Linked DNA regions of Homo sapiens. The protein of the gene in region 3 interacts with the protein of the main gene of each other region in a pairwise test. Each region holds a gene or a part of one and is shown on either strand. Other genes may lie near its edges.

Region 1 (7,723 bases), on a different chromosome or scaffold from region 3:
TATATGTACTTCAGTAGAAAAATATCCAATATATAATGTTAAATGAAAGAAAATCAAATCACAAAACTTTATGCATAGTGCAAACCTATTTTTACAAATAAGTTGTAAAAAAAATTAACAAATGCATAGTAAAAAAATATGAAGGAACAAACATTAATGATGTTAGTAATACTATAAATCTAGGAATGGGATTATGTAAGCCTTTCAGAGCTACATGATATGTCTTCATACTATTTTACTTTTTTTTTATAAGCATATACTTGGCCAGCGTGGTGGCTCATGCCTGTAATCCCAGCACTTTGGGAGGCTGAGGTGGGCAGATCACAAGGTCAAGAGATCGAGATCATCCTGGCCAACATGGTGAAACCCTGTCTCTACTAAAAATACAAAAAAAAAAAAAAAAAAAAATTAGCTGGGCGTGGTGGCACGTGCCTGTAGCCCCAGCTACTTGGGAGGCTAAAGCAGGAGAATCGCTTGAACCCCAGGAGGCGGAGGTTGCAGTGAGCCGAGATGGTGCCACTGCACTCCAGCCTGGCGACACAGCGAGACTCCATCTCAAAAAACTAAATCAATAAAAATAAAATAAATTTAAAAAAAAAAGGCATGTGCTCTTGTAAACCGAGAAAACATAATTTTGTTGTTTTCCTTTAAAAAAAAGTACAGCACGTTTCCTAAGGTCGGGTGAGGTGGCTCGTACCTGCAATCCCAGCACTTTGGGAGGCCGAGGCAGGCGGATCACAAGGTCAGGAGATCGAGACCATCCTGGCCAACATGGTGAAACCCTGTCTCTACTAAACTACAAAAATTAGCTGGGCATGGGGGCGCGTGCCTGTAGTCCCAGCTACTCAGGAGGCTGAGGCAGGAGAATCCCTTGAACCCGGGAGGCAGAGGTTACAGTGAGCCGAGATCACGCCACTGCACTCCAGCCTGGCGAAAGAGCGAGACTCTGTCTTAAAAAACAAACAAACAAAGTACAGCACGTTTCCTTACAATATATTTAAGAAGATAAAAATGTGTTAGAAAAACACTTGGATACTGGACTATAAACGAGCAAATAACATCAACAGACAACTAGTAAGATTATGAAAATTATTCAGTGCACTATCAAAGTAATGAGAATTAGAACATATACCATTTATTGCCTGCTAAATTGAAACAATTTTTTAAAATAATAAAAGTACTCGATGTTGGTAAGGGTGTGATTTTTTTTTTTAAAGCATGTCAGACACTGCTGACAGGAAACAAACTGGTACTATCTCCCATGAAAACAATGTGACAATATGTACCAATAGCCTGAGAAAGATTCCTAATATTTGATCTAACAATTATCTTTTTAGAAATTTTAGAAAAGAATCCATGTGTTAAAGCTCTCTTAAAATGTATCTGGCAGTTGTCTGGTTTTTACTGGACTCCCCCCAGCCCCCTCAAAAAGAAAATAATTCAAAACAACTAAAAACATGCAAAGATATTTCACCAAATCATTAGTTGAAACAATCTAAACACCAACATTAGTGCACAAAAGCAAATTATACAGGCATCAAAAGTAATGTGTTTAACAAACTTAAAAAAAAGCAAAACTCTATGACCTAGCAATTCTACTTACAGAAAAAACACTAGCACGCATACACCAGAAAACATCACAAAGAACTTTCACTGTTGCAAGGGTTGTAACAGTGTAAAATTTTAAACAACCTAACAGCCCACCAATCCAAAAATGGTTAAATCAGCTTTCTCAAACTGTGGTCTCAGGACCCCTGGATGTCCCCAGGAGCCTTTCAGCAGGCTTGTAAGATCCTCGCTTTTCCTGCTACGTATCTGTTCAAGGCTGGTGTTTTCTTCATATGCTTCAACCTAAACCAGATAGCACAACAGACTGAACAGAAGCAAACATGAAAATCCAGCTGTCTTCTATAATGCCAGACATTAAAGTGATTCGCAAAAATTTGAAACAATGCCACGCTCCTCTTCTAAGTTTTGTTTTAGAAAATGGTTACTTTTCACTAAAAAATTATTTAATACATGAGTCTGTGATTTTTAAATGAATAAAACATTTTCAATTTTCTGAGTTTTAATTTCCAAAATGGTAAATATACTGCAGCATTAGGAACCAAAAACTCTATTGGTCCTCAATAATTTTTAAGCGTAATTATCCCCAATCATAATGTTAAATGAACTGTAGCACTATTCTATCATGTAACATTATGATTGAGGATAATTAATGCGGATTTGGCTTTATCTGTAATATAACTGTTTCAAAAGATACTTTGCTCATGTATAATCAAGAAGTCATTTTTATGAAGCTTTTTAAAAACATGGGGAAATGCTTACAACGTAATTTAAATCAAGGAAAGCAGACAATCCAACGATATAAAATCTCATCTCAAGAAAATGCACAGGGGAAAAAAAGACTCAAAGGAAAAAAGTCAAAATATTATAAGTAATTGATTACTATTACATGGTGGAATTATGATTGATCATTTTTCCTTATTCTTTATTCTATTTTTTCAATTTTTGCCACTAAGCATGCGGTTTAATATCCAGGAGAGGAAAAAAAGGAAGAAATTAGGCGAAAAATTATATATAGTTCTACTGGATTAAACCATTAAACTCCCGCCAACTCAAGAGACGACAAGCTCAAGTGAATAAATGGAGGAATCTGATTGAATCAACAAAGTGCCTATTTTTTGAATTGAAAAGATTAACTTAATATCAAATGTATGGACTGGTTTTCATACAAGTCAAACTAATAAGAAAGAACATCCTTAGTCTGGAACATAATATTTGCAATCACGATAGTACAAATAAGAGTTAAAAATAAGGTCCTCTTTTGGAGTTCTCAAAAGTACCAAAGGAAAGGCAGCGGGAAAGACGGCCACTGCATCCTTCTGGTCTCTAACCAAGAGAAAATGCATGGGTGCGGGAATGGACAGTGCGAGAGCACCGGCGGCGATGAGACTCCTCTGCGGGGACCGAGCCTCTGCCACTCCTGAAGAACCACAGTCCCCTCCGCAGTCGCAGCCCCTCCCCAGGCGGGACGGCGGCGCCAGGGCGCTTCTCCCTCCGTCCGCTGGGGTCTCTCCCCCAGGAGCGCCGAACACTCCGGCGGCCCGGGAGCGGGGAACCGGGCAAACAGCCGCCGTGATTGCCCTCCCGGTCCAGTCCGGTCTGGCCCTTCAGGCTCCAGGAGGGGACATCAGATTGGAGGGCCAGGGTTCCCCGGCCAGCTCCGGGGGCTCGGAAAAGGAATCGGTCGGGGCCCAGGCTCTGTCCCCAGAGGAAGAGGGCCAGACCCAGCGCCCAGGTCGGCGGGTCCAGCGGTCACCCCGCCCCCCTGTGGGAACAGCAGGGCTGAGGGGAGGCCGAGACGACCGGTCACGGGGGGCTCTTACCTCCCTACAGCCCCTGCGGAGCTTTTTGGGAACTCGACACGACGTCGCGCTGAGGAGTGAAGAGCTACCCCGGCCGGGAGTCCTGGGAGTGCCAGATCCCGGCTCAGGGCTTCTTTCCCCGCCCCACCGGGCAGCGCAGAGAGCGCAGGCGCAGAGGACGCTTTCCTCTTCGGCTCACACGCCCCCTCCCTCGGCATCCGCGGCCGTCTCCAGGCCCGGGGCGCTTGCGCACTACGACGCAGGTTCCGAGCCAAGGGCACTAGATTTCTTACCGGAAGTGCCTGAGTGGGTTGTTGGGTGACGGGGACGCCTGATGATTCGACCTTAGGTCGGGACTCGGTTCTCCACTCGACTGCGGGATCGGGAGGCCACTCGCGTCAGTGTCTGACTTCCTTTACCCTTCGCTAACCTAGAGGCAGCTTCCCCGGCTCCAGCCTTAGCCCTTTGCTGAGCCTGCGCGGCGTTCCGGTCTCTACTGGACAGACCCGCCTTCCCGGCAGCGGGCTAGGCCTGCTCTCCGCGCTGCTGGCCCCTCGGAAAACATAACTTTTTGTTTACTTCAAACTGATTTTACAACACGCTGCCCCCCCGCCTCCCCCGCTTCCCCCGCTTCCCCTTCCTCCTCCCGGCAGCAATAAAAATGCTCCCAGCCAACGCCGAGCTCCAAGCCCCTCCAGCTGACTGGACATTCCCAGCCACACTTTCCTTCCCTTCGCTGCGTTAGTTCTGCATTTTTATTTTAAAGCAGCTGGTAGAACAGCTGTCTCCCTGTCTAAAAGCAAAAGCTGACTTATCTGATGTAGAAATAAAATGTCACTCACTTGATGTATATTTGCTTGTTGAGTTTTGCTATTTTTACCACAAGTTTCCTATAAATTTAAATGAGACCCGGCGCGGTGGCTCACGCCTGTCATCCCAGCACTTTGGGAGGCCGAGGCGGGAGGATCGCTTGAAGTCAAGAGTTCCAGACAGGCCTGGGCAACATAGCAAGACCCTGTCTCTACTAAAAATGAAAATGAAAAAATTAGCCAGGCGTGTTGGCGCGTGCCTGTAGTCCCAGCTACTGGCTGGGAGTCTGAAGTGGGAGGATCACTTAAGCCCAGGAGGTCAAGGCTGCAGTGAGCTCTGATGGCAACACTGCATTCCAGCCTGAGCAACAGAACCAGACCGTGTCTCTAAAAAAATAAAAAATAAAAACAAGGGAAGAGACATACATGTGGGATCAGATACAGACAGATACAGGGAAAAAGCAGTTCCTCAAAGGTTAAACAGCTCACAGTTCATACTGATCTTTCAAAAATCGCAAGAATTGGCCGGGCGCAGTGGCTCACGCCTGTAACCCCAGCACTTTGGGAGGCCGAGGCAGGCGGATCACCTGAAGTCAGGAGTTCGAGACCAATCTGGCCAACATGGTGAAACTCCGTCTCTACTAAAAATACAAAAATTAGCTGGGTGTGGTGGCGGGCGCCTGTAATCCCAGCTACTTGGGAGGCTGAGGCAGGACAATCAGGACCATTGAATGAACCCAGGAGGCAGAGGTCACAGTGAGCCAAGATCGAGCCACCACACTCCAGCCTGGGTGACAGAGCAAGGCTCCGTCTCAAAAAAGAAAAAAAAAAAATTGCAAGAATTATAATTTTTCGAGTATTCCAGCCACATGTGATTTGTGATGAAAGATTTGAGAATCAGGGTTCGCATCTTAAATCTGCAGTTTACAACTATAGTTCCTGATCTTTGAAAGATACTTAATCTTTAACCTTGGTTTTCCTAAACAACAAAATGAAATAGCCAAACTTTTGATTGCCTAAAGTAATGTGTGTATTGAGCATCTGCTTTGTGACAGTGTGTTAGATGCTTTGCTTACGTTATCTCATTTAATCCTAAGAATAATTCTACAAACTACAGTATGCCTTTTTCCTACTATGTGTTAGGCATTGTTCACAGATAAAATAAAATGGGGCCACTGCCCATGGGGAACCACAGTCTAGTAGCAGAGACTCACATATACAAATGCATACTGGGGACAGAAGTATTTATACGGTAAAGTGTGAGGGTAAAGAGAATAGAAAAAAGACACAAACACCTTAAATAGATCAATGGGGAAAGTATATACAATGGTCAGTTCACAAAATATGAAATTTAAATGCCTACTACACATTTTACCAATCAATATTCAAAGTCATTAATAATAAACAGAGACAAAAAAGAGGTTGTCTGGCATCTAATTACCCAATCTGTTTAAAATGTGAATAAACTCGATTGGTGACAGAAGAGTGAAGTGGACACTTATACCCTGGGAGGGATATAAATTGGGACAAAGATTTTGGAAAGTTATTTGTCAAATCATATCAAGAACCTTATGAGTGTTCACATGACCCAATTTGATCATTTCTCTTTTGGAAGTTATAAGAAGGTAGTCCAGAAGACGAAGATCTCTATGGAAAGATACTTAACCATAGTAAGTAAATTGATAAAAGTCGAAAATCCACCATTAAGAGAATGGTTAAAATAATTACTGCATGTATGTGATTAAAACTATTAAAATTATGTTTACAAAGAATTTTTAATGGCCTGAGGAAATTACCTCATGAAAAAACATTTTAAATATTTAAAAATATTTAACATTGCCTATGTAGTATGAGGTCAGCTATAGTATACAATGTATGTAAAAGAGTGAAGAAAGTATATCAAAATGTTGATAGTAGTCATGTCTATCTGATTAGAATGTAGATGTTATTATCCTGGACAGTCTACATTTTCTACAACATCTATATATTACCTTTATATTCTGGGGAAAAAGAAAAAAACCTCTAATGTAACAAGTGTGATAAGTTGACCAGGAAACCTAAGAATCCATTTCCCCTGTCATTTCAAGTATGGTCTTTAGAGTCTGATTACCTGAATTTGAATTCTAATTCTATAACCTATTAGTTGTGTGGCCTAAATTTTCTAAGCTTGATGCTCCTGTAGTCAAATGCTAATAGAACTAATACATTGATTGAGATAATCCACATAAAGTACTTAACTGAAGCACTGACTGTAAATGATGAATAACTGTTATTCTTTTTTTTTTCTTTTTTTGACAGGATCTTACTATATCACTCAGGCTGAAATGCAGTGGTTGGATCATGGCTCACTGCAGCCCCAACTCCTGGGGCCCAAGTGATCCTCCTACCTCAGCCTCCAGAGTAGCTGGGACCACAGGCGTGCATCACCATGCCCAGATAATTTTTATTTTTATTTTTTTAAAGACAAGGTTTCACTATGTTGCCTATACTGGTCTCAAACTTCTGGGCCCAAGCAATCCTCCCAATTAGAATTCAAATTCAGGTAATCAGGTAGTCAACCTCCCAAAGTGCTGGGATTACAGACATTAGCCACTGTGCCAGCCTAACAATTGCTATTCTTGATGGTTATATTTCTTTTTATAAATTGATCAGTTACATCCATGTTGTTATATCAGTAGCCTATGAATTTGGCTAATGCAAGTATAAGTTCCCTGGAGCACAATTACTTGCAAATACATTTTAAAACTGAATTTCTTAGTCTACTAAACTGAGAATAAGATACAGGGACTTGATGACCACTCCACATGTTTGTCACTATATGAAGACTCGTTTGCTCTGTTTTTGTTTCTGTTTTTGTTTTTTAAGGAGAATTAATAAGTTTGTTCATATAAAATTTGTAGCCTTTGATTACCTTTTAATGCCAAATGTCTACTAAAAATTTAATCTGCTAACAAAGCAATTGCAATACTTTTAGTAGATGTTTAGAATTATAATAACCTTTCCTAATTATGCTTTGAAAGAGTATTTAATTTGGGTTCCACAAAACTTCTGATCTATAAAGTAGTAAAAATAGATGAAATCAACCAACAAACCAAAGTTCAAATCAATGACTACTACTTTAGCCCAATAGTTCTCTGTGGAGGTGAGGGGTGATTTTGCCTCCCAGAGGACGTTTGACAATCTCTGGAGGCATTTTTGGTTGTCACCACTGAAAGAATGCTACTGATATCTAATAGATACAGGCCAGGGATGCCGCTAACTGTCTTGCAATTCACAGGAGAACCCCCAACAACAAAGAAGTTTTCAGCCTAAAATATCAACAGTGCCAAGGTTGAGAAACCCTGATTTAGCCAGTGAGTGGTTTAAAGCTAGTATATTTCTTCCAATTCCTAGTAAACAGTTCCTTTTTTTTTTTTTTTTCTGATGACCACAGCGGCACAAATGTGAGTTCAGAAATTCAGAACTGGGTTTTGAACTTCTACATAAGGCCCTATACCAATGAAAATTAAACTTTGTACCAAGTAGTACCCAAAGTTAACTAGATTA
Region 2 (7,660 bases), on a different chromosome or scaffold from region 3:
ATGATTCCATGTTATATAGAGTCCGTAAAGATCTGATGATTCACAAGCAAAGACAAAAGTTTGGTATTAGTGTCTTAAGTATACTCTATTTAATACACATGCATAGTATTTTAAAAGTATAATAATCTAGAATATAAATAAAAGTATAAAAGGTAGAATGGTCTAGAATATAAATATGCAAAATGAGGTTAACAGAATTCCTGTTCTACATCACCAAGTCCGATCATTAAATAAAAATTTAAAATGTTAAATATGGCTTGGTCAGAATATATAGAAATAACCATTTTTAGGTTAAAAAAAGAAAGTTTGCTAAACATGAACCAAAGGCTTATATTCACAGATACCCAAGTATTTAGTTCTGTTAATTACATACTTTGTAAGCATTATAATCACTATAATCCATCTCTTTAAAGAGCGAAAGACATTACATTGTTAAAAACAAGGCTGGGCACGGTGGCTCACACTTGTAATCCCAGCACTTCAGGAGGCTGAGGCGGGCGATCACGAGGTCAGGAGATCCAGACCACAGCGAAACCCCGTCTCTACTAAAAATACAAGAAAATTAGCTGGGCATGGTGGTGGGCACCTGTAGTCCCAGCTACTCGCAGAGGCTGAGGCAGGAGAATGGCGTGAACCCGGGAGGCGGAGGTTGCAGTGAGCCGAGATCGCACCACTGCACTCCAGCCTGGGCGACAGAGCGAGACTCTGTCTCAAAAAAATAAATAAATAAATAAAAATAAAAACAAAAGATATTATGCGAAAAAGCTCTCCCAAACTGACCTCATAACTTAAAGGCTTTAAATACTGACCAGGTGGCATTGCCCTACTTGCAAGTTAATCAAATCAGCTTTTATTTACATATATTCAACTTAATTTGAAGGAAAAGAAAAATGAAACAGGATACCCATGAATCAAATAATACACCACACAGATCAATCAGCACAAGTGATCAATAAAGAAAAATGTTTGAAATAAAAAATATGAGAGACTAAAGATTTACTTCAACATGTGCTACTCACATAAAATCCCTGGAACAAAAGAACATCTACAGCCAAATTAACTTACCGTTACAGATTTCAGTGTCATACCATGGTAGGTTCCCATAGTGTCAATTTTGAAGCCTTCCGTTTCTACGAAAAAAAAGAGGCTTATTGTTAAGATTTTATAGATCATGTATCTTATGACCTATAACAAATCTAAAGTAATAATCTACATTGAATGTGATGGTTCAATAATATACAAAGCCTTGAATCTACTATGTAAAATTAAATTACGTACTTGTGAAGATAAAAACTTTAAAAAGGACTCTAGGTTAAAAAATATTAATATATTAAATACAGACCAGCAAGCCTATTGTATAGAAGCTGGTTAAGACTATCTCTGCAATTATGTTCAAAAATTAAGATTGAATACTTTATAACCCCAAATTACTTACTACTAATACTCAATGATAGTACCACTAAAAGCATCTAATACCATGAAAAGACCCAAAGTTATAAAAAGTAGTGTTCCAAAGTTTCAGTCATAAGGCATATACTTATTTTTATATACATACATACATATATATTTTTTCTTTTGAGACAGGGTCTCACTCTGTCACCTAGGCTGGAGTACAGTGGCACTGCAGTTCACTGCAACCTCTTCTCCCATCCCCCCTCCACAGGTTCAAGCAATCCTCCCACCTCAGCCTCCCGAGTAGCTAGGACCACTGGCATGCACCACCACACCCAGGTATTTTTTTGTATTTTTAGTAGAGATGCGGTTTTGCCATGTTGCTCAGGCTGGTCACAAAGTACTGAACTCAAGCAATCCTCCTGCCTCCACCTCCAAAAGTGCTGGGATTACAGGTGTGAGCTACAGCAATCAACCATATTACATATTTTATAGAAAGCAATGTTGTAAATAATGATTGGAGTGCCAGGACAGAATCCCAATATGCCTTTCTGTAAAGGCAAATATTTTAACACATTGCAAGCCTTAAAATCTGTCACAACTGCCCAATTCTGTATTTTAGTGCAAAAGCAGAATAAACAATATATGTGATCAATTGGGGGCAACCCAATTTGGCCCATGGAGGGTGATATTTAGTTTGGGGGCTGTAATTTATCAACCTCTGCTTTATATAATTCATTCCTCAAGAAAAACATTGAATATTATAATGAAAGAATGGACGTAGTCTTTCTATGGCACATATCCAGTGCATGCCTTTAACAACTGAATGAAGTCAGCACACAAAATTCATTGCATCAAGGCAACATATCATTTAAAAAAAACTTAAATGAAGATTTCAGATTATGCTTAAAAATATCATTAACTTCCAGTTGCTTCTACCTAATATTTTCATGAATCAAGTCATGATGAATGAAGATCCCAAGAGGAAGTTACACTGACATTAGTCTCACCTCACAACTGCAGAAATGGTGTTATTGCATTAGCCAGAATACCACGTAGACTATCACAAAGTAAGTCCTCCCATCATTGCTCAAAATTTGTTTCCAAGTTCTCAATGTACATACACATTTATAACTTGGGAAAAATGACTTAACATATAGAATCTCTACTTTAAATTATATAAAAACAAAAGCAGTATGAATAACAGCAAACATTTATAGATAATTTACTTACATATCAGATACTATTCTGGGAATTCAATATTTATTAACCAGTCCAATACTCACAATAATGGTAAGAGACAGGCACTATAATAACATTTTAATTATACACAGGAGAAAACTAAGGCAGAATGCAGTTAAAGTAACATTAAAATTCACACAAAAAGTTACTACGACATAAGCTATCTGGATCCAGAATCCATGCTATTAACCAGGGGTTGGCCAACTTTTTTTCTGTAAAGGGCCAGATAATATTTTTAGGCTTTGTAGGCTACACAGTCTCTACTGAAACAATTCAATACTGATGTCACAAAGCCAAAGCAGCCATATATAAAATACATAAATGAATGAGTGTGGTTGTGTCCCAACAAAATGTTATTTAAGAAAAATTGCAGTGGGTAAGATCTGGTCTGTAGACATTACTTTGCCAACCCTTACCCTTAAACATCAGGCCACACTGCCTCTCAAGTTCAACACAACCACACTAAGGGGAAGATAAGAATTAAGCAACTTGCCTTCTTTTCCTTTGAATCTTTCCTGATCGTATCTGTTATAGGCAGCTGGGATAGGCTGTTTGGTGCGCAAAGTGGGATCCTGTAAAAAAATTAATTATGAGTTACTTGTTAATATTTTTAAATGTCACTTATTTAATGTGCTGGAGTGCAGTAGCATGACCATGGCTCACTGCAGCCAAGACCTCCTGGGCCCAAGTGATCCTCCCACCTCAGCCTTCCAAGTAGCTGGGACCACAGGCATGCACCACCACACTCAGCTAATTTTTTTTTTTTTATAAAGACAAAGTTTCACCATGCTGCTCAAGCTGGTTTTGAATCCCAGCCTCAGGTGATCGACCTCAGTCTCGCAAAGTGCTAAGATTACAGGCATGAGCCACCATACCTGGCTAAAGTACCTTTACGACATAATACTCTTCCCTGCAATTATGATTGTTTTAACAAAACAAAAAAACCCAAATTATTAATCCTTAAATAAACATGAAAGCCATGATGATTAATCCATTATAAACAGAGTAAGACTGAAGACGTATTTTTTTTAAATAATTAGAAAAGGCTGTCAGTCTAATGATGCATTATTTAATCACAAATACTTTATCAAAACTCACAATGTTTAACAAACTAAAAACACATATTTAGGAATATTCCCAAAGCTACTTGGAAAATTCATGAAGACTGAAATACTTTTCATTTTATTATGATAGGATTCTATATCAAATATTATGCCAAATAAAATATACTTATCAATACCTATCAAGAATGATAAGTATATGCTTACTTCACACTAGGCATATACTTCTATAGTCAAATGCCAAACATTAAAACCTTCAAGTATTCTAACGATTATATAAATATACAGAAAGAATAATCAGTCACAAATGGTAAAACTGTTTTAAGGTTTGACATGTTTCCTATCAACAGCTATTCAAAATGTCAACAAATTCATAATTCTAAGTACCTTGTGCTTTGCCATCATAGCTCTTACTCCACTACTTTAAAAAAAAAAAAACATCTAATAAGTAGGGAACTGCTGAGAGATCTAGGTTACATGGTCGTTTGAGAATCTAACTAAACCCTGAGGATCTGAGGTGGAACAGTTTCATTCCAAAAACCTCCCCCTGGTCCATGAAAAAACTGTCTTCTACGAAACTGGTCCCTGGTGCCAAAAAGGTTGGGGACTGCTGTATTAGACTATAAGCTCAAAGAAAGTAGGGACTATAATCTTTCTCACTATTGTATCTCAAGATCATTAGCAGACTTCCTAATAGAAGGCACTTAAGTACTTGATGGAGAGTCAACTAAAAGTATTTATCTAATTATCAACAAAAGCCTACCATCTTTAAAAGTTAAATTCCAACAATTTCATGAGCAAATAAAACTACTACAAAGTAGTTGCAAAGGCTGTATTAGTACTCTAATACATTTCAATGTGCCTTTTAAAACTTGAAACAGAGTTTTAAAAATATAGAAGGTTTTCTGGAAGGCCGAGGTGGGCAGATCACCTGAGGTCAGAAGTTCAAGACCGGCCTGGTCTTGAACAGGACGAAACCCCATCTCTACTAAAAATACAAAAATTAGCTGGGTGGGGTGGCATGCGCCTGTAATCCTGGCTACTTGGGAGGCTGAGGCAGAAGAATCGCTTGAACCCAGGAGGCGGAGGTTGCAGTGAGCCAAGATCGTGCCACTGACTCCAGCCTGGGCAACAGAGTGAGACTGTCTCAAAAAAAAAAAAAAAAAAAAAAAAAATTATAAATTTTCTATTTATAGAATCTTCTATTTTCTATTGCAGAAAATAGAAACAATTTCATTTGTATGTTTTATTCCTTTGTTGAATCATATGAAAATAGCTGGAAGGATTTTCAACAAAATTAGAGGATGTTTGAATTTAAATATAGGCTATATGTCATACGTGAAATTTACTTTGGGAGGGTCTTAAGTGGCACTTCAAAGAGAAGGCAGTCAACTCTCAGAGCAGCTGAAATGGAGGTACAATTAAAGGACAGCATGGCTGGTGATCAAGAGAAATACATTCACCAAGATGTAATAGATACAATGCCAAAAAGAACCCCAAACTGGGAGTTAACAGGGATTTATGTTATTAACAATGGTTAGCAATTGTCCCAAGCAACAATGAGTAGGCCAGCCACAGTTTACCTAAAATAAATAGAGGGCTTTCCCTAATTAACCTTTTTCAGACTCTGACCCAGGTATATTAAGAATTACTGCTCCAGTTAAGAATTACTGCTGAAGTAAGTAACTTTTAATGTTGGGGAGGGCTTTCACATCTTTCAGATATGCTAAAGGAGCAAAAGGTTTAGAATCCACTGATTTTAAAATGTGAAGATGTCTTCAACGTTACTACACTGCAATATAAGTGGCAACTTCATTAAATCTACTGTAAAGCAGTAAAGCATTCTTACCACAGGTGCTGCATTTGGGGCAGGTCGCTGTTCAGGTGCACGCCCTTCTTCTCTGGCTTTTACAGATTGAAGAATTGCAAAAATGTTCTTGGAAAAATTCTAAAATATAAATGGATTTTAATTAAGCCCACTTTAAATATACAATAGTAAATTTAGTTGATAATTTAAGACTAAGTTATCTTACTATCGATTCTTCCCTACTACATATGTCATAAGGTATCATTATTATACACATATGTAAAAACCAACCACTACTAAGATATTGATCCAGAGACTGATTATTGTAAATCCCATGGTATTCATTTCATCATTTTCATTTTACTTAAACTGCTACATTCGGGAGGCCAAGGCAGGCAGATCACGAGGTCAGGAGATGGAGACCACCCTGGCTAACACAGGTGAAACCCCGTCTCTACTAAAAATACAAAAAATTGGCTGGGCGTGGTGGCAGGTGCCTGTAGTCCCAGCTACTCGGGAGGCTGAGGCAGGAATATGGTGTGAACACGGGAGGCGGAGTTTGCAGTGAGCCAAGATCATGCCACTGCACTCCAGCCTGGGCAATAGAACGAGACTCCATCTCAAAAAAAAAAAAGAAAAAAAAAACTGCTACAAATGTATTCATATTCTGCATCTGTTCAAATATATAACCAGAAAGCAAGTTAAAATCTAAATAAGGCCGGGCACGGTGGCTCGTGACTGTAATCCCAGCACTTTGGGAGGCAGAGGCAGGTGGATCATGAGGTCAGGAGATTGAGGCCATTCTGGCTAATACGGTGAAATCCCGTCTCTACCAAAACTACAAAAAATTAGCTGGGCGTGGTGGTGGACACCTATAGTGTCAGCTACTTGGGAGGCTGAGGCAGGAGAATGGCGTGAATCCAGCAGGTGGAGCTTGCAGTGAGCCGTGATAGCGCCACTGCACTCCACCCTGGGAGACAGAGCAAGAATCCGTCTAAAAAAAAAAATCTAAATAAAATATAAATACATTTGTCAAAAGAGGCTTCTAGTTCAGAAAAAAAAATAATCAACTACTACATCCTCCTGTTAAACTCCAGTGCTAATTTCAGATTGCTACATATGAGTTTTGAGATACTATCAGAAGTCAATGTACACTTTTCAAAGATGTGTAAGTTGGAAAGTACAAGTACAAATGCTCTTCAACTCACAATGCAATTACATGCTGATCAAAAGTCAACACAGCTAACTAATCTGACGACTCTTTCCTTCATGAAATATTCTTCCTTCATGCTATGGATTGAATGTCTCCTCTAAAACCCATGTTGAAATTTTATTCCATTCTAATAGTATTAGGAGGTGGAGCCTTTAGGAGGTGATTAGGTAGGTCATAGGGCTCCACCCTTACGAATGGATTAATGTTGTTATTGCAAAAGTGGGCTCGGATTCCCGAAAGAGTAAGTTTGGCCCCATTTCTCTCTGTGTCTCATTTGCTTGCTTGCTTGCTTGCTTGCTTGCTTGCTTGCTTGCTTGCTTCTGCCTTCTGCCATGAAATGACCCTCACCAGATGCCACTGCTATGCTCTTGGATTTCCCAGCCTACAGAAATATGAGAAATAAATTTCTTGTCTTCATAAATTACCCAGTCTGTGATATCCACAGCAGCACAAAACAGACAAAGATACTTGGCCTCTGAGATGCTACTCTCTCTTGGTTTTACCCCTAATGTCTGACAGTTCCTTTGGGGCTCTTCTTATGCTGCCTATCAATCACTTAACATTTGAAGGAATATGTAGTAAGAATCTACTCTAAGCCAAACACCTTGCTTGGCACTTGGGTACAATGATGATCAAAAAAGACATGGTCGCTGCCCTCATGAACCTCAAATACAACATAATTTCTCTTCTTTAAACAAGGCATTCTGTTTCCTTGGCTGGGACCACTCTTCCCACCTTACCCCTCTCACCTCCCTCACTAGTTTTTGTTCTTTAGGTATCACTCCTCTTTACTCTCAACTAAGTTAACTGCCCTTGCTGGGTGTCTGCCCTATAATGTACGTAATAATTACCGCTTATTTAATATTGACTTCTGCTGAAGAGTATAACTTCTGTGAGAGCTAGGACCAATGCACCTCTGGTCAGTGTTTAGCACTTGCCTAGTTT
Region 3 (7,660 bases):
CTATTAACAATGTTAAGTTTTTAAAAAACTAAAAAATGTGTATTTGTACATACATGCACACACACTCATATTCTGTATGACTTTACATAAAAATAATACATAGAGAAAAACAGAAGAAAATCACTGCAGTATCAAAAGTGGTTCTCTTTGAATAGGATTTTTTTGATGTCTTAGATTCTATATAGTTTAGTGTATTTTCTAAGTAAATGCCTTAATTATGATTTTTATGCTGAAATTATATTGATTTTATTCTGAAATTATAGGAAGAATCAAAGATTAACGAAGTTTTACCAAATAATTTTACCATAGTCATCATTTGTAAGAATAAAAGTAGTTACCCTTCAGCAATAGTTCTAATATTTTTGTAAAGTAATTAATAATCCCTTTGCATGTTATCTTGGCATATTGTGACTTTCAGTGAGGCTTGTTTGCTTTTTAAAGCCTTTGCACCAAGAATTGGCAGTTGGACTGAAAAAGACAAAAACAAATAAATAAATGACAAGATAATCAGTCTTATTACTACTCAGCTTTTCTAATTGGTGATTCTGTTAACATTAAAGGAGTTTTTAGTAATCCAAATTACTTATAACTCATTTACTCATGTTTTATATAGATGCCATTAATAATTAATTGAGTATGGGCTGTATTCTTTTCTGTATCTGAAAGCAGAGTGGAAATTGTTTACTGCATTTGAGATGACTATTTCACATTTAATACACTTAAATAACTTTTCCACAGTGCAAGATGTAAGTTACCTTGGCAGGAAATTTACCTTTTGGGGAAAATATATTTTAAATACTTAAGGTTCTTAGCAATCAGTATGTCTTAGTTCAATGTATAGAGAAACAAAAAGTCAGATATACTAGGAAATGCCTTATTAAACTCTTTCAGATGGGTATAATTCTTTAAAATATAAAAATAATGCCAAGGTAGTATATTATTTTGTTCCTAATACATGTGACAAATTAAGCCTTATGGAATCTGTTATTTCTGCTTCTTTTAAAGTTGACTTGTCCTGAATTAAAAATTTATGCTTATAAAGCCAATTTTTTTAGTAGTGATAGTTTGATAGCATTTTTTTTTTTTTTTTTTTTGAGACAGAGTCTCGCTCTGTCACCCAGGCTGGAGTGCAGTGGCGCGCGATCTCGGCTCACTGCAAGCTCCGCCTCCCATGTTCACAGCATTCTCCTGCCTCAGCCTTCCTAGTAGCTGGGACTACAGGCACGTCCGCCATCAGGCCGGCTAATTTTTTGTATTTTTAGTAGAGACGGGGTTTCACCATATTAGCCAGGATGGTCTCGATCTCCTGACCTCGTGATCCGTCCGTCTCGGCCTCCCAAAGTGCTGGGATTACAGGCGTGAGCCACCGCGCCCGGCCGTGATAGGATGTTTTAACTAATGCAAGTTTTAGTAGTGATAGCTTGATAGCATGTTTTAACTAATGCAAATGTTCAACTATTATAGGTGTTCTGTTTGATTGTAATAAGAAGCATGATTTGAAGTATGATTTCATGAATTGCATGGTTTATTGCCAAAGAGAGATTTTCTTCGGTTCACAGTGCTTAAAAGGGAGAGAAATAACATGAACAAATCTTACAGGGAATATCAATAGATGAGGTATATTAACCATATAGTGGGTGAGTTCCAAAATTATTAAAGTCTAGTCACTTTCTCAGGATGGAAGCAGGCTTTTGTGAAAAGTAAAGTCTAAAAGGGTTGAGGTGTACCTTTTTTTATGAGCAGTCTCTCTGGAGAGATGGCATCCAAAACAGTGGAGATCCCAGACAATGGGGATCTCCTGCTGCTAGAGGAGATGTAGGTGTTGGCTGCCGAGACTCAAAGATCTAAGGCCAATAGGATATGGCCCTATTGCAGCATGAGCTGCCAGTCTCAAAGAAAGCAGCTGAAAAAGTGCAGCCTGCCATGGCCTAAGCTTTCAAAGTATCTTTCAAACTCTTTGGTTAATATGTATTTTGAAGTCCAGTAGTTGAGGTCAGTAGCTCAGATCTGCGGTATGATAAGGTCTGATGTAATACTACTGAAGAGAGGAGAAGTTCATTCCAAGTTCTCACATATGGGGTCTAACAGGTATTACATGCTTGAGCGGAGGGGGATAACACTCCAAGTTCTTATGACAGCAAAATATGTAGCATCCATGTAGCAAACTATGTTAGTGTTAGAAGTTATTTCAAAGCTACATACTAATACGATTGAATGTTGCCAGTTGACTTAAGTATTTGTTTTAGAATCTATATTTATAATTACAATAATTGTGCTATTTATTTATTACTGAATTCATGGAATTTAAGATGACCATAATAACTTCATATATATTAACATACAAAAAAATCTATGTTAGAACTAATAAACTGAAGTTAGATCATTAGGCTAGTCTGCCTGCTGGTCTCTTACAGATCTGGAAGAATGGAAACCACCAAATTTAAATTTTCACCAAAATCTTACTACTTACCTGAAAGAAAGTGACTTTCAGAGATTTTTTAACATTGACCATTTTAACAGTATTATCTTTTCCTTTTAATTCATTTGTTTATGTCTTTTGTTTTAATTGAGGAGGCCAAACCTGATGGGTTGGTGACTGATTCATCAGCAGGTAACTTTACTTAAAGCAGATATTTTGTCAGTTTTCTTTTTCTTCTTATTTGTTTTCCTTTCTTTTTCTTTGATGCCTGCCAAATGAATTTTGTTTCATGGTTATGCTTTATGACTCTAAAACAGTGAAGATAATGGTCATATTCTAGGTGTAGAGAGTTACATGTGAACTTCATAATTTAATCAGTTAACTAAAAGTTTAGTTTTTTTAGTTCATTATATTTTGAAGTAAGAAACTTCTGGAATATTACATTAATATGGTTGTTTAATGAAATTTTAAGTCTATATTAAGAGTAAGATAGTTTATTTTCTTTATGATGAAGTATTAGGAGTTGACTGCATACTTTAATGAATTAAAAGGCCTTGAGATCTTAACCATTTCCAACATCCCGCTTTATAACTAATTTTATCAGAGGAGCAGAATGTTTTCCTTTTTGAGCCAGGCTTGGTGGCTCATGCCTATAATCCCAACACTTTGGGATACTGATAGGGGAGGATGGCTTGAACCCAGGAATTTAAGATCAGCCTCCGTAACATAGCGAGACCCCATCTCTTAAAAAAAAGATAAGGGGTGTATTCCTTTTTGGTCATTTGATGGATATGGGAAAATAACTGTGAAATGTGAAATCAAAATAACTTGTAATAAAATATTTATAGATTATTTAGCAGTGATTCTAAATATTCATTTCATTTGTAGTGTATGTTTGTAAATTATGATTTGTACCTTAAGTGAAGCAGATATACTTAATTTCTTGAAGTGTCAAAATACTACTTGTAATTGGATAATAAACTTAAGTTGATCATCTTTACAACTGTAATAAATATAAGTAATAACAATTTAGCATATGTAATTAACATGGTATTTGAATAACTGCGACACTTTTTTGTAGAACTACAGTCTTTGGAACAGCAATTAGAAGAAGCCCAAACAGAAAATTTTAATATTAAGCAAATGAAAGACTTATTTGAACAGAAAGCAGCCCAACTTGCTACTGAAATTGCAGGTAAATTGAGTTAGAATTTTTTAGCCAATAAATCAATCTCATTACCTTTTTGCCATTATATACCCTAGCAATAAATATAGTATTTTAGTGTGTTAAAGCATTTGTGATAGACTTCCAATGGTGATTAATGGAATTTAATGATTTCAGAGTTGCTATGTAAATTATTTTGTTTGTCCTCTAGCTGCCTGCCTTCAAAGGACTGGTGTTTCTTTGTAGATTCTTCTTGAAATTTAGAGAAGATACATTTTCTTCTGTGGCATGCTTAAAGATTAAAAAGGAACATTTTAAAGAAGTGAAGTAAATAATGTAGTATAAATGTAACACTTGGTTATACTATTACATATATATGTTTTTAACATGTGCTTTTAGGTAAAATATGTGATTAAGTACATTAAAATGCTAATTATTAACTTAATGTTGAGTGGAATTTATGTAGACAGTTAATTTTAAGTTCATTTCATGTAATTAGAAGTATAAATTTACTGTATATATTTATGGTTATCTAAGGAATGTGAATTTGAATTAGAGTGATATACAGATATGCAGAGTAATATATGGAAACTTATAAAACTGTCCTCCCCTTAAACTAATATTTATATAACTATCTTTAATTAGATATAAAGTCAAAGTATGATGAAGAAAGGAGTCTTCGAGAAGCTGCTGAACAAAAAGTGACACGTCTGACAGAAGAATTAAACAAAGAGGCAACTGTAATTCAAGATCTGAAGACGGAACTGGTAATTTAGGAATTATTTATTGAGATGTACTCTTATACCTTTCTAAATTAAAAATAAAATACATACCCTGAAGGAAAATGTTTAAAAATATAATTTGAGTGAAATCAGGAAATAAGCAATTCCCTATATTCTACCACCTGCATATATATTCTGTATATGATTTTTAAAATAAAAATGGAATGTTATGATACGTAACTTACTACCTTAACATTTTTGTTGTTTCTATCTAAATATCATCTGTCATTTTAGTAGTTTTCATATCTGCATCTCTGATCCTGGTCTTCTCTTGCATGTTTGTTTTATAAATCCATCTGCTTTTAGGGTACTTTGTGTTGAATTTCTAGCTTTAATTTCAAATTCAACAAGTATAAAATCAAAGTAATCATGTTTCCTCATTACTGTATTTCTGTTATTGGAACCATACATCTCTAATACTCTCCCAAGACTTAATAATCTTGGATCTGTCCTTGACTTTCTTTCCTTTATTTAGCTCTCAATAAATATATAAATTAACTACATCCAACCTGGAGCAAACTCTATGCTTTCATTTGCTCCTTCATTTTTATTACCAGTTTTGTAGGATAGAAAAAGAAGGAATGTAGCATTTTCAAGTCACTGTTATGACCAATAGATGTAGTTTGTGAAGGGAAGGAAAACAAATAAAGTAGTAAAGATAATTGTGAATTTACTATACAGCACCTTGAGTATTAATACTATTAAATATGAGGTAGGATGGGAAGAGGAAGTGGCTTATTGTGGGAGAAGATATCAGTGTTCAATGTTTGAAGTCTAAAAATTGATATTGATGATTGTTTCCCTTTTGATTCCTTTGTAGTGAAATGATTCTAAAAATGTGTATTATTTTAGTTTTTCACTTTAATTTTTAATTAAAATGTGTTGTTTCACAGCTTCAGAGACCTGGTATAGAAGATGTTGCCGTGCTAAAGAAAGAACTGGTCCAAGTTCAAACACTAATGGATAACATGACCTTGGAACGTGAGCGAGAATCTGAAAAACTCAAAGATGAATGCAAAAAATTGCAGTCACAATATGCTAGCTCAGAGGTAATGAAGTTCATTGTACTTAAATGTGATTCATATTAGCTTGTGTAGTGTATACTATTGAGTGAAGCCAGGATTTGAGATTTTTCTGAGTGGCCTATCAAAATATTTGTCTTTCTTTCATTTTTGATCTGAATAATATTTGTTTATAGTCAATGTGGTCTCTCAGTATGTTTTGCTTTATAAAGCTAGACACTCAGGAATATTTGCATAAAGATTATTATTCTGTTTAATATATATATTGTTGACATGATATTTAAGGTTAAATTTACTCAAGGTTGGTTGATAAATGGTAATTGACTTTAAAGGAAGAATGATAGCATTTTCTACAATTATATTACCAATTTTGTTTAGAAAATATATTTAAGAAAGGCTTATTTTGTAATAAGCTTATTTCTTTTTTTTTTTTTTTTTTTTTTTTTTTGAGACAAAGTCTTGCTCTGTCACCCAGGCTGGAGTGCAGTGGCGTGATCTCAGCTCACTGCAACATCCACCTCCCGGGTTCAAGTGATTCTTCTGCCTCAGCCTCCCAAGTAGCTGGGATTACAGGTGCCTGCCACCACGCTTGGCTAATTTTTGTATTTTTAGTAGAGATGGGGCTTCACCATGTTGGCCAGGCTGGTCTCGAACTCCTGACCTCAGACGGTCTGCCTGTCTTGGCTTCCCAAAGTGTTGGGATTACAGGCGTGAGCCACTGCACCCGGCCATAAGCTTATTTCTAATTGATGGACTTTGAATTATGAATTTGAAAGAAGTCTTGAACTAGTCTAAATTCAGTCCAGAACTTCCCTTTATGCCAACCCTGCTAAGTGATCCACAATCCTTGCTAGGTGGTGTACGGTGTGCATATTTCTTCCTAAGTCTATTTTATTGAGCTGACATTTGTTTCCCTGTAATTTACATGCGCTGGTTCTGGTTCTGTCCTTAGGAATTACACAGAATAAATTGTTCCTCTTTCCACATGAGGTATTTGAAGACTGCTCATATTTATTCGGAGTATTTCTCTTCCAAGATAAACATTTTCAGTTCTTCTACTATTTCTTACATGACATGACTTTGGCCTGTAAATCCCTTGTATAATATGTCAGCATTTAATAAACTCTAAGATGTATAATACATAAATGTGCTTAAAAATCCTAGCCTTTGTCCTTTTTACTTTATTATAGGAGACATTTTGTTATGACTACTGTTATTTGTAGTCTTTAAGCTCCCTTATGTAAAGTAGACCTCTGATTTTCATATTTTCAGTTTAAAAAGTTGTTACCGTAACATTTTAATTTGAATCTCTTCCTTAGAGTTTTGTAACTGGTGATCTAAAAGCCACTCTATTCACAAATATAACATGTCATCAAGCTTTGGGGTATAAGTATTATAGATAACCCATGTCTAATTCATTTTTAAAAATCTTTCTTTATCTTATGGGAAGAGATGGTGAAAGTTTGTGGATATAACACACATAGGCATGTAAGGCCTTATGATGCCTAACACTACACTCTCTAACTTATGATATTTGGATGCAGTTTTTCCAAAATTGACACTTTGTAGCCCAATAACACTTAATTCCAAAAATTTTCAAACAATTTCAGGTGGTTCATGAACTTACTGAAGCCAGTTAAAAGCTCTTGTCCTACTGGTATTATTAATCAGCAGAAGACAATGATAAATCTATAAGTACAAATGTGAAATCAAGGAGAGGCTGAATCAAAGAAGTCTCATGAGGAAAAGTGCTATTCAGATGTTAATGTCAAAATACCTAAACCAGGGTGAACCCAGTCATTTATTTCTTTGTATCAGTAAGAACTATTTTTGTTTAGATATGTCTGCCTATTGGTATTTCTCAAATTAAAAAAAAATACACTCCCTTTTGATTAAAAAATATCTTAAATGCTATTTGAAATTTTAAAATAAATGTATTATGGTGACTAAAACAGAACCAAATTAATGTCAGTTTTAGGAATATGTATTTTAAAGTTGAGTCCTCTCTGACTTATTCCAGCTGCAAGTTTTGGAGTTATGCATATACTTTTTAAACAAATAGAACATTAACAAGGAAAATAAATTTACATGTTTACTTGCATTTAAAAAAAATACAGGCTGAGTATGGTGGCTCACCTCTATAATCCCAGGACTTTGGCAGCTGAGGCAGGCAGATTGCTTCAGTCCAGGAGTTTAACCAGCCTGGGCAACATGGTGAAATCCTGTCTCTATAGAAAGTTAGCCAGACGTGCTGGCACGTACCTGTACTCCC

What was found. Proteins that work in one complex are often made in the same cells at the same time.
Region 1: the proteins of EEA1 (region 3) and ZFYVE16 interact in binary tests that used the Homo sapiens proteins (3 or more experiments, as listed by UniProt).
Region 2: the proteins of EEA1 (region 3) and CDC73 interact in a two-hybrid assay, tested with the Homo sapiens proteins (one study listed by BioGRID).

What each region holds. Positions count from the first base shown.
Region 1 is NC_000005.10:80,403,820-80,411,542, reverse strand, and holds the start of ZFYVE16 (zinc finger FYVE domain-containing protein 16), read right to left. Parts: upstream 3,480-7,723; 5' UTR 3,390-3,479; intron 1,852-3,389; exon of another isoform or gene 1-1,851.
Region 2 is NC_000001.11:193,145,850-193,153,509, reverse strand, and holds part of CDC73 (parafibromin), read right to left. Parts: intron 5,644-7,660; coding exon 5,545-5,643; intron 3,207-5,544; coding exon 3,128-3,206; intron 1,131-3,127; coding exon 1,066-1,130; intron 1-1,065.
Region 3 is NC_000012.12:92,848,866-92,856,525, reverse strand, and holds part of EEA1 (early endosome antigen 1), read left to right. Parts: intron 1-2,571; coding exon 2,572-2,611; intron 2,612-3,500; coding exon 3,501-3,614; intron 3,615-4,229; coding exon 4,230-4,351; intron 4,352-5,259; coding exon 5,260-5,415; intron 5,416-7,660. UniProt on the Homo sapiens protein: Binds phospholipid vesicles containing phosphatidylinositol 3-phosphate and participates in endosomal trafficking.